Homo sapiens: one gene and its partner. The main gene of each other region encodes a partner of the protein of the gene in region 2 in a complex. Each region holds a gene or a part of one and is shown on either strand. Other genes may lie near its edges. The genes, in order: GHRH and GHRHR.

What was found.
Region 1: the proteins of GHRHR (region 2) and GHRH are in contact, whole or in part, in a cryo-EM structure (PDB 7CZ5), measured with the Homo sapiens proteins. Residues at the interface, in NP_000814.2 of Homo sapiens: Leu119, Ala120, Glu122, Glu123, Phe126, Ser127, Val129, Lys130, Tyr133, Val179, Lys182, Leu186, Phe187, Asp190, Thr192, Asp193, His194, Cys195, Phe197, His210, Thr213, Phe217, Ala271, Cys272, Asp274, Leu275, Asp276, Trp282, Ile285, Ile289; in NP_066567.1 of Homo sapiens: Tyr32, Ala33, Asp34, Ala35, Ile36, Phe37, Thr38, Asn39, Ser40, Tyr41, Arg42, Val44, Leu45, Gly46, Gln47, Leu48, Ser49, Ala50, Leu53.

The regions. Positions count from the first base shown.
Region 1 is NC_000020.11:37,258,643-37,266,367, forward strand, and holds the start of GHRH (somatoliberin isoform 1 preproprotein), read right to left. Parts: upstream 3,173-7,725; 5' UTR 3,101-3,172; intron 1-3,100. UniProt on the Homo sapiens protein: GRF is released by the hypothalamus and acts on the adenohypophyse to stimulate the secretion of growth hormone.
Region 2 is NC_000007.14:30,959,146-30,966,970, reverse strand, and holds the start of GHRHR (growth hormone-releasing hormone receptor precursor), read right to left. Parts: upstream 3,019-7,825; 5' UTR 2,903-3,018; coding exon 2,846-2,902; intron 1-2,845.

The DNA of each region.
Region 1 (7,725 bases), on a different chromosome or scaffold from region 2:
CTGGCTGTCCTCCACTTCCTGCTCGAGTGAGCACTTGCTGCCAGCGAATGACAGGGATCTCACTACCCCCAGGCCCGGGAGCTTATTTCCAGATGGTTCTTTATTTATTTATTTTGAGAGCGGGTCTCACTCTGTGGCCCAGGCTGAGGTGCAGTGGTGCAATCATAGCTCACTACAGCCTCAAACTCCTGGGCTCAAGCAATCCTCCTGCCTCAGCCTCCTGAGTAGCTGGGACAGCAGGCATGTGCCATCATGCCCAGCTAATTTTGAAATTTTTTGTAAAGATAAAGTCTCACTATATTGCCGAGGCTGGTTTCAAACCCCCGGGCTTAAGTGATCCCCCCGCCTCAGCCTCCCAAAGAGTTGAGCTTATAGGCATGAGCCACAATGCCAGGCCCAGGCAGTTCTTATTGTTAGGAAGTTTGTCTCACCATGTCAAGCCCAAATCTCCTTCTCCTGCAAATGTTTGTTAAGCCTCTACTGTTCCGGTAAGGACTGGGGCTAGAGAAAAGATGAGAACACGGGATCTACCCCGAGGGCTGGCTGTGTAACATCCGCCTGCTGGGCTGGAGCCTCTGCACCTACAGCCACACGACTGGTCCTTTAGATATGTTCCGCATGTCTGACTTAAGCTTTTGTTCCTCAGACCAAGGCTCGGCAGGCTTCCGTCCTCCTCATCGCACCATACCACGTCTGGTCCCCCTTCTCCCCACCTGGTCCAGGCTGCCTCTCCAGAAGTGGAATTTCCTAAGCCGAGAGATCTCTGGATGCAAGCAGGGCCCCTTGACAGAAACCACTGCCTTTTCTGTCTCCCAGCTGCAGCCTGGCTTTCTTGCCTTCTTTGCTGCTGATCTTTTAAAGATTCAGGCAGATCTAGGTCCCCAATCACCTCCCTCCCCTGCTCAGAAGCCCTTGGCTCCCCACTCCTTCCAGAATAAAGCTCAAACCCCTTCTCTTGGCTTAAGCTCTCCCTCTGCCTGCCCCTTCTCCCAAGGGCTGGCACAAGTGATTCCCAGCCCCTGTGCCCTATCAGGCTCCACAACCCATCCTTGCACTCTCCCTCTGGAGCAGGCATCCCCATGCTCCTCTTACAGCCAAGGAAAAGAGCCTAGAGAGGACAAGGACATTTTCCATGATCCTCCATCAAATTAGTTTTGGAGTGGGCACTTCAGAGTGGGCCTCCTCATTCCCAGGCCGGCAGACTTCCTTCCGCTCCATGCAGCAGCCTCCCAGGTACAATGCTCTATTCACAGTATTCCCCATTCACAGGGATCCTCAGCCTCCATCACCTGCACGTGGGAAAGGGTCTGAAAAAAAGGAAAGCTTCTTGCTCTTTGTTGTTGGGCCTCTGGGGAAGAAAGAACAGGGACAAACAGGAACACCTGCTTGATTGGCCCCTCCCTATGCACACCCAGTAGTTTCAGGGAGTTGAAACAACCTCATAGGAGGGCAGACTTTGGTGGGGAGGGCAAGTCATAGTAAACACAATACCCCGCTCATTCAAGATAAGGCTCAGCAACTGCACAAGTTAACCAAGAGGCTCAACATTTGCCACAAATCCTGTGCCCCAGGCATAGGTCAAGACCCCACAGCAACCTCTGAGCTATGAGAACCGAATCCATGGGTTTGCAGATCCCACTGGATGAAAATGGGAAACAAGAATTATCCAGTGTAGGGTAAGATAAGAAGAATAGAGGTTATGTCACTAAGGATAAAATAGCTCCAGCCTGAGCAACATGGCGAGACCCCATCTCTACAAAAAAAAAAACACACAAAACAAAACAAAAAAAAACTTATCTAGGCATGGTGGCGCATGCCTGTAGTCCCAGCTACTCTGGAGGCTGATGTGGGAGGATTGCTTGAGCCCGGGAGGTTAAGGCTGCAGTGATCCATGATAGTGCCACTGCACAGTAGCCTAAATGTCAGAGCAAGACCCCATCTCAAAGAATAAAATAAAATAGCTGTCAACAGACACATTCCACATGACAACTTAAGGAGTCAAAATTCACTGAATGAAGTGTAGCCGAGCCCAACAGCATTGCTGGCAACCCTGATGACTGAAGGCACTCCAGAGTTTATAATCTATCATTATGATCATCGGTTAGCTTCCTGCAGTGCTTACTGATTCTGGGATTAGATGTACTTGAGATTGCCTGGATTCAGGATAAACGGGCACTTGATCTACATCCGTTGGCACCTTTTGCCAGCTTTCATGCCAGGAATGCCAGGAGAATTCTGCAGATTCACCTGCAGCTGACAGAGGTCAGGTCTCAAGCACCCAAATTCGCAAGGCCATTTTTGAAAACCCAGGGAAAGAACATCTTTAACCTTCCTTGAATATCCCCCTTTGAAATTTGAGCACCCCAAAGCATAGACTTCCTGATCTGGTTTATAAACTGTTTCAGTGACAGCATTCCAAGTTAAAAGAAATCTAAGTTTTTAATGAGGAAGCATCTTGAACTGTCATTCAAAAGAGTGACACTCCACCTCCTTCCAGAAGGGGTTTGAGGCAGTCTATGGTGAAAGACACAAATACTTCAGGACCATTAAAGCAAGGATCAGGAGACAGGCGTGGGGTAGCGGAGGACTCCAAAGGCAGATAATTGTGTCTAAAACCTGGAGTAAAGAGTGTGGCTGCAATTGAGCAAGAAAGCAAAATGTTATCAATTTCCCGGCAATTACATTGAATCAGTTCTGAGTGATCAATGAGCAGTATTGATTTGCACAGCCACTTGGCTCATCTCTGATCCATGGCAGAATCCCATCGCTGACAGGAAAATCGAGCCAACTCACGTTTGCCCCCGAAGCCTGCCCACGCATCCTCGAAGGAGCACTGAGACCTCACCACCTGCGACAGACACCTGGAGCCAGTCCGCCACGCGCCCAAGTTAAGACAAGCCCCAAACAGCACCATCAAAAGCCTATTCCAGAGCCCCTATTGAGGGGTGATTTTATCCAGAGAGGGGCTCAAATGTACTCACCAGTCCATGGGCAAAGAGGATGGCGGTGGGCCTCTTGGACTCAGTGTTTCTAAGTTGGTGAGAAGGTTAACTTTTCTTACCCCCACCCAGCCTAGCCCCCCCAGGGCCACCCCTCTCACCTGATGCGGCAGATATCCCTCTGCTCCGAGGCACTGCTCAAATCCAGGGGCCCTGGGCTGGGTGTTTGCTCTGGCAGCCGCCTGGCGTTCCCATCATTTATCTCTTCATTTTCCTAAGCGTTGTCAGCGTCAGAGAATCAATTACCCACAAGTCAACCAAAGGACTGTTTTTAGCATCATATCACACTGACAAACCCTGTTGGTGAAAGAGGTTTGGCCCCTTGCAGACTTAGACTCCTGGTAAAGTCTCCTTTTATCTTTGGCACAGTGGACATAGTACAAAGGTGTAACATTATTCCAAGAGGATATAGAGAATATATACTGCTATAATAGTGATTGGAGAACTCGGCTGGGCGCGGTGGCTCACACCTGCCATCCTAGCACTTTGGGAGGCTGAGGCGGGTGGATTGCCTGAGCTCAGAAGTTTGAGACCAACCTGGGCAACATAATGAGACCCTGTCTCTAGAAAAAAATTAAAAATTAGCTGGGCATGTTGGCACATGGGTATAGTCCCAGCTACTCAGGTGGCTGAGGCAAGAGTGTCACCTGAGCCTGGGAGGCGGAGGTTGCAGTGAGCCAAGACCACGCTATGGCACTCCAGCCTGGGTGACAGAGCACGACTCTATCTCAAAATATATATTTTTTAAAAAAAGAAAAAATATGTGTTAAAAATAATTGGAGAACTCATAACAGTGAAACACCAAGAGTTTATTGATTCTCCAAGATAAATGTGCCTTTTCAAAAGTTCATATAATTTAGCTTTGTCCCTGTGTAATTTTATTTCACTTTTGGGTAGACAACATTATGAATAAGCGTTATTCTCTCCTTAGTGGGGAATTTGTTCCCTATCTCCCTTGTCGTCCAATTATCAGAATTCTGCACTATTTGATTTACACCTGCTTGGTCACAGGCTGATTTCAACAGCTAGCCTGGGGGCATCCGTCGTCACCTGTCAAGGCAGCCAGACATTGGCAGTTGCCTCAGAGAAGTGTGAAATGAGAGGGAAGAGATGGAAAACCTTGGGAGAGTTGTTGTGTTTCCAGATTTCTCTAGCCTATAGCTAAGAAATCCTCAGGAATGACATAAAAGCACAGGAGGCAGAAGCTCTGGTTTCCCAGGCGGCCGTCGTGGAGGTGTGGAAAGAGCTCCAAGCCTCGAGTCTAGGGACCTGCTGCCTCTCCCAAGCCTGTCAATCATGACCTCTGTGACCCTTAGGAAGTTACTTCTACCTGGCTGGGTGCAGTGGCTCACACCTGTAATCCCAGCACTTTGGGAGGCTGAGGCGGGTGGATCATGAGGTCAGGGGTTCGAGACCAGCCTGACCAACATGGTGAAACCCCGTCTCTACTAAAAATACAAAAATTAGCTGGGTGTGGTAGTGGGCACCTGTAATCCCAGCTACTCAGGAGGCTGAGGCAGGAGAATTGCTTGAACCCGGGAGGTGGAGGTTGCAGTGAGCCGAGATCGTGCCACTGCACTCCAGCCTGGGCGACAGAGCGAGACTCTGTCTCAAAAAAAGAAAAAAAACTTCTACCCTCCGGGCCTCAGTTTCTACCTGGAAACTTGAGAGTTGACATAGAACAGCAACTTTCAAACTATTTTTTTGAGAGGGATCCTATCTTTGCCACCCAGGTTGGAGTGCAGTGGCATAATCTCGACTCATTGCAACCTCCACCTCCCGGGTTCAAATGATTCTCCTGCCTTAGCCTCCAGAGTAGCTGGGATTACAGGTGCGTACCACCACGCCTGGCTAAGTTTTGTATTTTAGTAGAGATGGGATTTCACCATGTTGGCCAGGTTGGTCTCAAACTTCTGACCTCAGGTGATCCACGTGCTTCTGCCTCCCAAAGCACTGGGATGACAGGTGTGAGCCACCACACCCAGCCCAAACATTTTTTAAAAAGTAGCAAAACTCTTTCTTTGGAAACCTACAGAGACAGGTTTTTAATATGGGGCTACTCTGGTTGAAGAGGGGGAAGTGGAGACCCCCTTGCCTATCCCTGAGGTACCTCGATGGGTCACAATTACAAGCCAGTAATTTCCAAGAGTCCCCTTAGCAACACTATTTTGTGGTTCTCCTTCTTAGCCTGCACTGAGCCATGTTCTTGGCATCTAGCAAATATGAGATGTTTCTCATAGAAGCAAGGCTTGAGTGGTATGTCACCTTGCTGGCCAGGATACGAAGTGGTCAGGTCAGGCCAGATCCCCAAGGATTAAGAATGGGCTGATAGTGGCCAGGTGCGGTGGCTCATGCCTGTAACCCCAGCACTTTGGGAGGCCGAGGCAGGCGGACTGCCTGAGCTCAGGAGTTCGTGACCACTCTGGGCAACATGGTGAAACCCCGTCTCTACTAAAATACAAAAAAATTAGCTGGGTGTAGTGGCATGTGCCTGTAATCCCAGCTACTGGGGAGGCTGAGGCACAAGAATAGCTTAAGCCCCAGAGGCAGAGGTTGGTGTGAGCCGAGATGGCGCCGCTGCACTTCAGCTTGAACAACAGAGTGAGACTCTGTCTCAAAAAAAAAAATAAATAAAAACAGGGCGTGGTGGTTCACGTCTGTAATCCCAGCACCTTGGGAGGCTGAGGCGGGCGGCTCACGAGGTCAGGAGATCGAGATCATTCTGGCTAACATGGTGAAATCCCGTCTCTATTAAAAATACAAAAAATTAGCCGGGCGTGGTGGTGGGTGCCTGTGGTCCCAGCTACTCGGGAGGCTGAGGCAGAAGAATGGCTCAGGACCCAGGAGGCGGAGCTTGCAGTGAACCAAGATGGTGCCACTGCACTCCAGCCTGGGTGACAGAGTGAGACTCCGTCTCAAAAAAATAAATAAAATAAATAAATAAATAAAAATAAAAATAAAAATAAATGGGTTGATAGCTTTAAATTAATTATTATTATTATTATTTTATTTACTTAATTTTTTGGAGACAGGGTCTCGCTCAGGCTAGAGTGTAGTGGTGAGATCTCAGCTCACTGCAGCCTTGACCTCCTAGGCTCAAGCAGTCCCCAACCTCAGCCTCCTGAGTAGCTGGGACTGCAGTTGCACGCCACCATGCCCAGCTAATTTTGTTTATTTTTAGTAGAGATGAGATCTCACTATGTTGTCCTGGCCAGAACTCAAATATTATTTAAAAAAAAAAAGTGCAGGTCACAGCAGCAGGGAGCAGACGAAGCAGTTGGGAGCCCCAGGGCTATGGGCTCTCGCACAGTCAGGAAGTGTGGGGTAACTCCTGGAAATGCAAAGTGGGGACCATGCAGAGCTGGGCACCCAGAGTGGACGCTGGTCCAGGGCACAGATGCAGGTTACATGGAGTTGGCCGGAGAAGCCATGGGGCTCAGAATCCAGCCTCGGTTGAAACTCTGTGCCAGGCATTGTGCTACAGACTTCACGCCCTATCTCAGTTTTCTTATTTGTAAAATGGGAGTGATAGAGCTCAACTTATGAGGCTCTTGGGTGAGAATTATTGTGACATTGCATAAAGGGCAGACCTGGCATAGGGCAGAGCTCACAATTTAGCTTTGATAATTGCTGTTCTTGTCATTGCGGTAAATGAGGAAACAGGCATGAAAGGTTACGTGCTCAGCCACAGCCACAGAGCTAGTCAGTAGCTGGAAGAGCTATGACTCAAACATGTTTTCTGACTTCCTTACAGCCCCAGCTACTCAGGAGGCTGAGGCAGGAGGATCACTTGAGCCCAGGAGTTAGAGGCTGCAGTGAGCTATGTTCGTGCTTCCGTACTCCAGCCTGGGCAATGGAGTGACACCTTGTCTCTATTGAAAAAAAAAGGAAAAAAAAGTTTTCTGATTTCCAATTTGTTTGCCCCACACTAAGGCCCTTCCTGGGCCTACCAGTTCTAATTTTTTTTTTTTTTTTTTTAAAAAGAACTTCAACAGTTTGGCCGGGCGTGGTGGCTTACACCTGTAATCTCAGCACTTTGGGAGGCCGAGGCAGGCGGATTGCCTGAGGTCAGGAGTTCGAGACCAATCTGGCCAACATGGTGAGACCCTGTCTCTACTAAAAATACAAAAAAATTAGGCGGGCGTGGTGGCATGCGCCTGTAATCCCAGCTACTCGGGAGGCTGAGGCAGGGGAATTGCTTGAACCAGGGAGGTGGAGGTTGCAGGGAGCCAAGATCGCGCCACTGTGCTCCATCTTGGGCGACAGAGGGAGACTCCATCTAAAAAACAAATAAACAAACAAAAAAGAGTTAACATATCATAAAGCTCACTGGTTTTAAGTCTATGGCTCCATGAGCTTTCATACATTTATACGGTGGTGCCACCATTGCCACAATCCTGTTTTGGAATGCTTCTGTCCCTCCAAAAATTCCCTCTAGCCCATTTGCTCTCAGTCTCCACTCTTGCCCCCTGCCCTAGGCAACCCCTAATCTGCTGTCTTACAGTTTTTCCTTTGCTAGGAAATTCCTATAAATGGAATCTTTTATATGATGAGTAAATCATAATAAATCAAATAAAATACGCACTTTTTGGTGTCAGGCTTCTTTCACTCAGCATAATGTTTGACCTTCATCCATGTTGATCCAGGTATTAATAGTTTGTTCCTTTTTATTCCATTGTATGGATGTATGACTGTTTGTTTACCCATTCACCTTGATGGACATTTG
Region 2 (7,825 bases):
GCGCAAACTGTGATCAGAAGCAGGACAGGGGCCGGGCGCAGTGGCTCATGCCTGTAATCCCAGCACTTTGGGAGGCCAAGGTAGGCGGATCACCTGACGTCAGGAGTTAAACACCAGCCTGACCAATGTGGCAAAACACTATCTCTACAAAAATACAAAAATTAGCTGGGTGTGATGACACGCTCCTGTAATCCCAGCTACTCAGGAGGCTGAGGCAGGAGAATCACTTGAACCCAGGAGGCGGAGGTTACAGTGAGCTGAGATTGTGCCACTGTACTCCAGCCTGGGCGATAAAGTGAGACTCCATCTCAGAAAAACAAAAAAAAAACAAAAAGAAGCAAGACAGGTACCATGGGAGGGAATGTCCCTCTCACAGGGATTGGGGAGGTGGCATTTGAGCTGGACCTGGGGACAAGGGAGCATTTTTTAGAGCCAGACACACACAGTGGGGAGAAGAGCATCTGGAACAGAAAGCACAGCATGTGCAAGGACAAGGGAAGTGGGAAAAGGTGTATTTGGGAAGTATCAGCTCAGGACTAATGTTTCTCTCCCCATGGCCCCCACCCCCACCCCACACACACACACCCTCAATGTCTAGCAGGATCCATGTCAGCAAATGTTTAATTAACAGCTAGTGTTCTTTGGGAGAAATGCAGGCACAGCAAATAGTGTAGCAGATGTAAGACCAGGGCTGGGGTCAGAGAGTAGAGACTTTGACCACCAGAGTGGGGACAATAGATGGTGGGTGACCACGTGGAGAGACCCGAGAGCTCTGCCGCAGATTTGTGGGATAGGAGAAAATCTGGAGAGCCAGCCCAGTAAGGAGGGTCACCCCCACCAGTGCTACCCTGGCAGGAGAAGTCACTCCTGTCCCGCCCTGCTGACCCCATGGGTCCATGGCTTGGACGCAGCTCTGCCATCTCCTGCCTGGCCCTGCAAGGCCCCAGGGTGCAGATGTCACCCACTACCCAGGCTCCAGGTCTTATTTTGGTGGGTGCCCCGGACTCAGCTCTTGGCTTCCTCCCGAGGACTCAGTAACCTCAGGTCCATCTCAGGGCAGAGCCCCGTTGCGTCTCCCCTACATCTCCCAACAGACTGAGCGCACAAAGCGGGGAAGGAAGAGCAGGAGGGCAGATGGGCCTGTATGGGACTTTCTCACACCATCAGCCTGATATTGACCCTGGGCTGTTGGAAGAGCTGTGGTCTCTGCCTATCCTTCTGCCTACTGCACAGTCTGGCAAGCCCCAACCCTGCCTGGGAAACTTTTCAGGGCCAATTTGGGGAAGCAACTGAGGGCAAAGGATGCCAGGAGAGCAGCCTCATGCCAAAAGGATGAACAGACAGTGCCCACACCTCTAAGAGAAGGAGGGAAATTCAGAGAAGCCCCACTAATGACTCAGGATGTGTGGGCATAGGGCCAGATGTAAGGAGAGATTCTAGGGAGGGAAGTGGTGGGAGTGGAAGGATAGATCGTTCTAAGATTTATCCAAATGCTCCTGCTGAATTAGGACTGGCGAAACACATCCTGGGGCTCCCAGTCACCCCCCCACACACATCGTGGACCCCACCCACCCCTGAGGGGAGGCTCCATCGCCCTGGACCCCCAGGCCTTGCATCTATGCCTGCTGCTCTTCCTGGTATCTGCAGGGGATGATGCCCACACTGGCAAACAGTGATTGAGTTCTAGCTTTGGTACTAGCACCATCTGCTGAATGGCCACCACCAGATCTTGGGTACCCCTGCTAAAAATAAAGCTTTTGCTGTAGAGTGCACACAGATGGCAGACAGGGGGGCAGTCGAAGTTTCCTGTGTTGCACCCCTATGCCCAGCCCTTGACAAATCAGATTCCACTCAATGCACAGTGACCCGGGCCAGCGGATATTTTCTCTTTTAACAAAAGAGATAAAAGCAAGACTCAGGAAGGCTGAGGAACTTGCAGTTCACACGGCTAGTTTCATGCGTCCAGGATTCAAGCTCAAAGCCTGTGCACTCAGGAGCAGGTGCAGCAAGGTGCTCGGGAGGGGCAGCACCCTCCAATAAGGCAGCGGAGGAAGAATGCTTCAGGCCCTCACCATCCCAGAACCTTGTGACTCCCAGCCTGGTCCCTGCTGTCACTTGCAGTAACCTCCTGGAAAGTTACTGGGAAACTGCAGCCCATTCAGGAAGGGCCCTCTCTCCTGATGCCCCGTGCTCCAGCGCTCTAGCCCATGGAGTACAATTTGGTTGCCAAAAGCCTCTCCAGCCCTCAGCATCGTGAGAAGATGATGGATCCCCTAAGTGCTGGAGCAGAAGCAGCTGGTCTCCACCAACTCCTTAGGTTCCATTCCTTCCCTGGCCACACCCTCTTCAAAGGAAACCACCAAACTGGAGAGTGGCTCAGGGAGTCATAGGGCTAAGGAAGGGTCCAGAAAGCTTACCACAGGAGCGTGTGGAAGCATCACAGGTGCACAGCTGAGAGAAAGAGCAAACTGCAGGGACTAAGAGGGGAGCCTGACTTTGCCTCACCAATTCTGAGGCACTGTCTTGTGGCAGACAGAGTCTCTGTGGCCCCCAGAGGCACAGCCAGGCCCTGGGGGAAGCAACAAGAAGGTGAGCTCAGCTCAGCCCCTGGAAGGACATGTTAATAGCACTACCCAGAGTCACTACAGATTGCTGGGCAGAGGGAGATGAGGGAGGGAGCCCCAGTGTCAGGGGCTCTCCAAGCCACAGCCTGCCACCTGCTCGTAGGGAGGGACTCTAGAGCAGGAGAAGGGCAGTAGGGTCTCCGCCAGGCTCCAGTTGGCCCTGTGGCTCCCAAATCTGGAGCCCAGTGGCAGAGGCCAGAGGGTCTCAGCTGGCTACTCACGGTCGGTAACGGGCTCAACACGCAGAAGACGTGGGCCCCCCACATCCGGCGGTCCATGGTGAGCCCAGCAGTGGCTCCCTCCACCAGCCTCAGTAAGCCTTGGCTATCTTCCTTCCCCTGCTGTCCCCTGACACAGCCGTTTCCACCGCACCCTCTGCTTCCCCTTCTCAGGTGGCTGTTTGCATAGGCAGGAGCTAGCCAAGGGGACACAGACCGCTGAATATTCACCAGGATTGCAGGACACCTGCCCAGCTCAGCATTGACCCTGAGGTGGGACTCTGTTTCCAGCAGGCAGGGGCTGAGCCCCCACCCTCATCGCCTTCTACTCTGGCTATAAGTCTGCTTGTGTGTCTGTCCTGATAGCAAGGGCCCAGAGAGGTGACAGCCACAGGTCACTTGGTCAATATTCTCTACCACTTTCTTCTCTAAGCCCAGGTCTCTGGTGGCCATCATTGGAGTGACCCCTCAGATTGATGGGATCTTAAAGAATAGGAAGGGGACCTGGGCCTGCCCTTGGGAAGCTCCCAGGTTATTTGATGTGTGCTCCTAGCCTCATCCACAGGGCTGGAGAGTGAGGTCAGAGCTGTGTGGAACTGGTGGGGAAGGGGAAGGGTATGGTATTAGTGGAGATGGAGGGTTGGAATGGTCTTAGGAAAGGAAGTATGATCTGTAAGCACTGGCATGGGCTGGCCAGGAATGTGTCATTTCAGCAAGACCTGGGTCCTTTACTGGGCAAGGACGCTGGCCTGGATGGTGAGCTGAAGCTGCAAGCATCAAGGCTCTGGATTTCACATGGGGGCTTATCAAAATCTCTCCAAAACTCTCACGGCAAAAGGGGAAAATGAGGTTGGTTGGAAGCCTTGTGAAGGATTCATGGGTCAAGCCATCTTGAATAGGGGGAGGACAACTCTCATCGGTAGCAGAAATGAGAAGACTTACACAGCAAACTATATTGAACATTCATTGCCTGGTCACTTTTATTATAGTTTTAGACTTTAAAATGCAGGGTCTCCATTGGCCAGGCTAAAGACAGTGTTCTAAATGCCCCTGGATCTTGCACAGCACTTTGAAATGTCAAAGATGTCACCTCTGAAAGACCTGAATATCCCAGTAGCCGACAGGTCCTGATGTTTGTGTGCACGTCTCCACTCACAGAAGCTGCTGGGCTGCGTGCTAGAACACCAGACATGTTTACAGCCCGATCACATCATGAATGTTGAAGGCTCCTCGCCCCCGCTACATCTGGATTTAGGGCTTATTTTGACATCAGCAGGGGTTTATTTTTCCATTTTTCTTCATTGTCAACAAAATACTGAAAAAAAAATATTTCGAAACAAAAACATGAACCACCCCAAGCTCCAAAACCCTCCTATCCTGTGCAAGTGTTTTCATGAGCTTAACTGTGAAATGGGTGCAAGCAGCATGCCACACAGAGCTCTGCACACTTTTACACTTTTAGGGGAGAGCAGAGCTCCTCTCTTGGCAGGCTGAGAGCTCACGGGTTGGAAAAGCAGAGTGCTGAAAAGGTATAACTTGAAGGGAAAGCTAGAACCTTCTGTTCCTCAGCTACAAAGAAGCAACAGCACCAGGAAAAAAAAGTCTTACGATTAATCACTGTTGATAATTAGCATCAATATCATTAGCATTAATGATGGCTAATTATTGAGGTTGATAGTGATAATTAATAATAGTTATTACTGTCTAAACGAGTGGTTCCTAACCTGGAGCAATTTTGCTTCCCTAGGGGACATTTGGCAATGTCTGGAGACATTTTTTGTTATCAAAATAAAAACTAGGAGTTAGGGTGAGGAGTGGGGTGGTGAGTTGCTCCTGGTATCGAATGAGTAGAGACCAGGGATGCTATTAAGCATCTACAATGCACAGGATGCCCCCACCCTTGATCATATGAAGAATTATCCAGTCTCAAAGATCAATAAGACCAAGGCTGAGAAACCCTGCTCTAACTGTACATGTTCCCCAAGGATCCCTGCAGGCCTGTTTCTTCATGGAGCTGTCTTCTCTAGCTAATTCTGTATACACTCAGGATTCAAATTCTGCCTCCATCACTTGCTAGCTGTCATACATTTGGCAAGTCATTTAGCCTTTCTGAACCTCTGTGTTAGTACATTTGTATTGCTATAAGGGAATACCCAAGGCTTGGTATTATATTTTTAAAAAGAGGTTTATTGCGGCTCACAGTTCTGCAGACTGCACAGGAAGCATGGCACTGGCATCTGCTTCTGGTGAGGGCCTCAAGAAGCTTCCATTCATGCTGGAAGGTGAAGGGGGAACCCCTGGTGTATCACATGGTGAGAGAGGGAGCAAGAGAGCAAGGGAGATGTCTGGCTGGCTCTTTAAAACTACTAACTCTTGCATGAACTAGCAGAGTGAGAACTCACTCATTACCATGGGGAGGGCACCAAGCCATTCATGAGGGACCCACCCCCATGACGCAAACACCTCCCACCAGGCCCCACCTCCAACAATGCAGGTCTATTTCAACATAAGATTTGGAGAGAACAAAACATTCAAACCATATGAGCCTCCGTTTTCCCATCTGAAAAGTGGGGATGATACTAACACCTTCCTTATAGGATTGGTGGGATAAGTGGACAAGGAAAGCCGTGTACTATAAAGAACCTCATACAGAGCCTAGATCCAGTGGGCAATCATTTATGACAGCATGTAACAAAGATGGACTAACAGCAAGTAAGATTGGAACAGCTGATTCTTTGTACAAAAAAATAAGATTGAATCTCTAGCTCACATTTACAAAATATAGATTCTAGGTTAAAAATCCTAATTATAAAACAACAAAATCATAAAAATGCTTCAAAAAATAGAAATTCATGTTTATGGCCTTAGAATAAAGGAGAGTGTCATATAAAATAAAAATCGTAAAGAAAAAAATCAAGTGTGACCACATTAACATTTTAAAATGTATGTTCAAGAGAGGATGCCATAGATGAAAACTAAAAGCATTTTTCTGCTACAAACTGAAAGAAATATTTGCAACCAATCCTGACAAACAAATCTGTAGTATCAAAAATGTATTTTAAAAATATCTAAAAATCAGCTGGTCGTGGTGGCTCACGCCAGTAATCCCAGCACTTTGGGAGGCCAAGGCGGGCGGATCACCAGGTCAGCCTGGCCAATATGGTGAACCCTTGTCTCTACTGAAAATACAAAAATTAGCCAGGCCTGGTGGTGCACAACTGTAGTTCCAGCTACTCAGGAGGCTGAGGCAGGAGAATCCCTTGAACCTGGGAGGTGGAGTCTGCAGTAAGCCAAGATCGTGCCACTGCACTCCAGCCTGGGCAACAGAGTGAGACTATGTCACAAAAAAAAAAAGAAAGAAGAGAAAAAAATCAGTAAGAAAGATAAAAATAACTCAGAAAAGTGAGCAAATGATACAAATAGACAATTCAGAAAAGAAGTGAAATATACAGGCCAATAAACAGATGAAGAAATGTTTAACATTCCTAATACTAAAGAATATGAAAATAAAAATAATAATAAGCTACCCATTTTCACCTAATACATTGCCTAAAACTTTAATGTCTGATAACACAGTGTCTGGAAGATAATGTAAAGAAATGGGAGCATTCATAAATGGCAGATGAGAGTGAATTTTGTATAACCACTTTGAAAAACAATTTGATATTATCTAATGAATTTAAGAATGAACATACCCTATAAGCCAGAAATTCCAGTTCTGGGTATTTGCGTTCTGAGTTCAGTGTTGTTTATAACATGTAGTAAAAACCAGAAAACAACACAATTGTCCAATGAGAAAGGAATAGCTAAACAAAATGTGATCTATTCATACAATGGAATACTACTGAGCGGTTAAAAGGTATGAACTAAATCTATTTGTACAAGAGGATTTCACAAAGTTCATGGAAATATGGAATTAAAAAATAAAAAATATAAACTTTATTTCTCAACATAAGCTTTCAAGACACTTTTGTAAGCAATGATACCAACCATGTAATCCATCCCTAAAACACTGAGAGTCCTGGGAATTTAGCCATGTCAATGCAGTCTTTTTTACATTACTACCTAAAGAAAAATGAGTGCCCTTAAAAGATTTTTTAAGATTAGAAAACAAAAAGACATCATGAAAAGCCAAATCATGGCTGTGAGGTGGATGTGTAATGATTTCCTATCAAAACTCTCGCAAAACTGGCCTTGTTTGATGAGAAGAATGAACAGGAGTATTGTGGTGGTGGAGAAGGATTCTCTAGTGAAGGTTTCCTGGGCATTTTTCTGCTAAAGCTTTGGCTATCTCAAAACATTTTCACAATAAGCAGATGTTATCGTTCTTTGGCTCCCCAGAAAGTCAACCTGCAAAATACCTCAAGCATCCCCAAAACTGTTTTCATCATGAATTTTGCTCTTGACCGGTCTGCTTTTGCTTTGACAGGACCACTTCTACCTCTTTGTAGTCATTGCTTTGATCATGCTTTGTCTTCAACATTGTACTGGCAAAGCCATCCTTCATCTTCTCTTACAAATCTTTGAAGAAATGTTTCAGGATCTTGACCTACTTGTTTAAAATTTCTGCTGAAATCTCTGCTCGTGTCTCCAGTTGATCTGGGTGCAATGCTTTTGGCAACCATCAGTTGGGAAGTTTGCCCAACTTTAATTTTTCTGCTGGAATTGTGTAGAGTGAACTGATTGAGATGTCTATGGTGTTGGCTATTGTTTCTGCCATTAATCATCAGTCCTCTTCAATTAGGGAATGACCAAATTAATTCTTTTCCTCACAAATTGATGTGGATGGTCTGCTGCTACAGGCTTTTTTTTTTTTTTTTTTTTTTTGAGACGGAGTCTTGCTCTGTTGCCCAGGCTGGAGTGCAGTGGCGCGATCTCGACTCACTGTAAGCTCCGCCTCCCGGGTTCACGCCATTCTCCTGCCTCAGCCTCCCGAGTAGCTGGGACTACAGGTGCCCGCCACCAAGCCTGGCCAATTTTTTG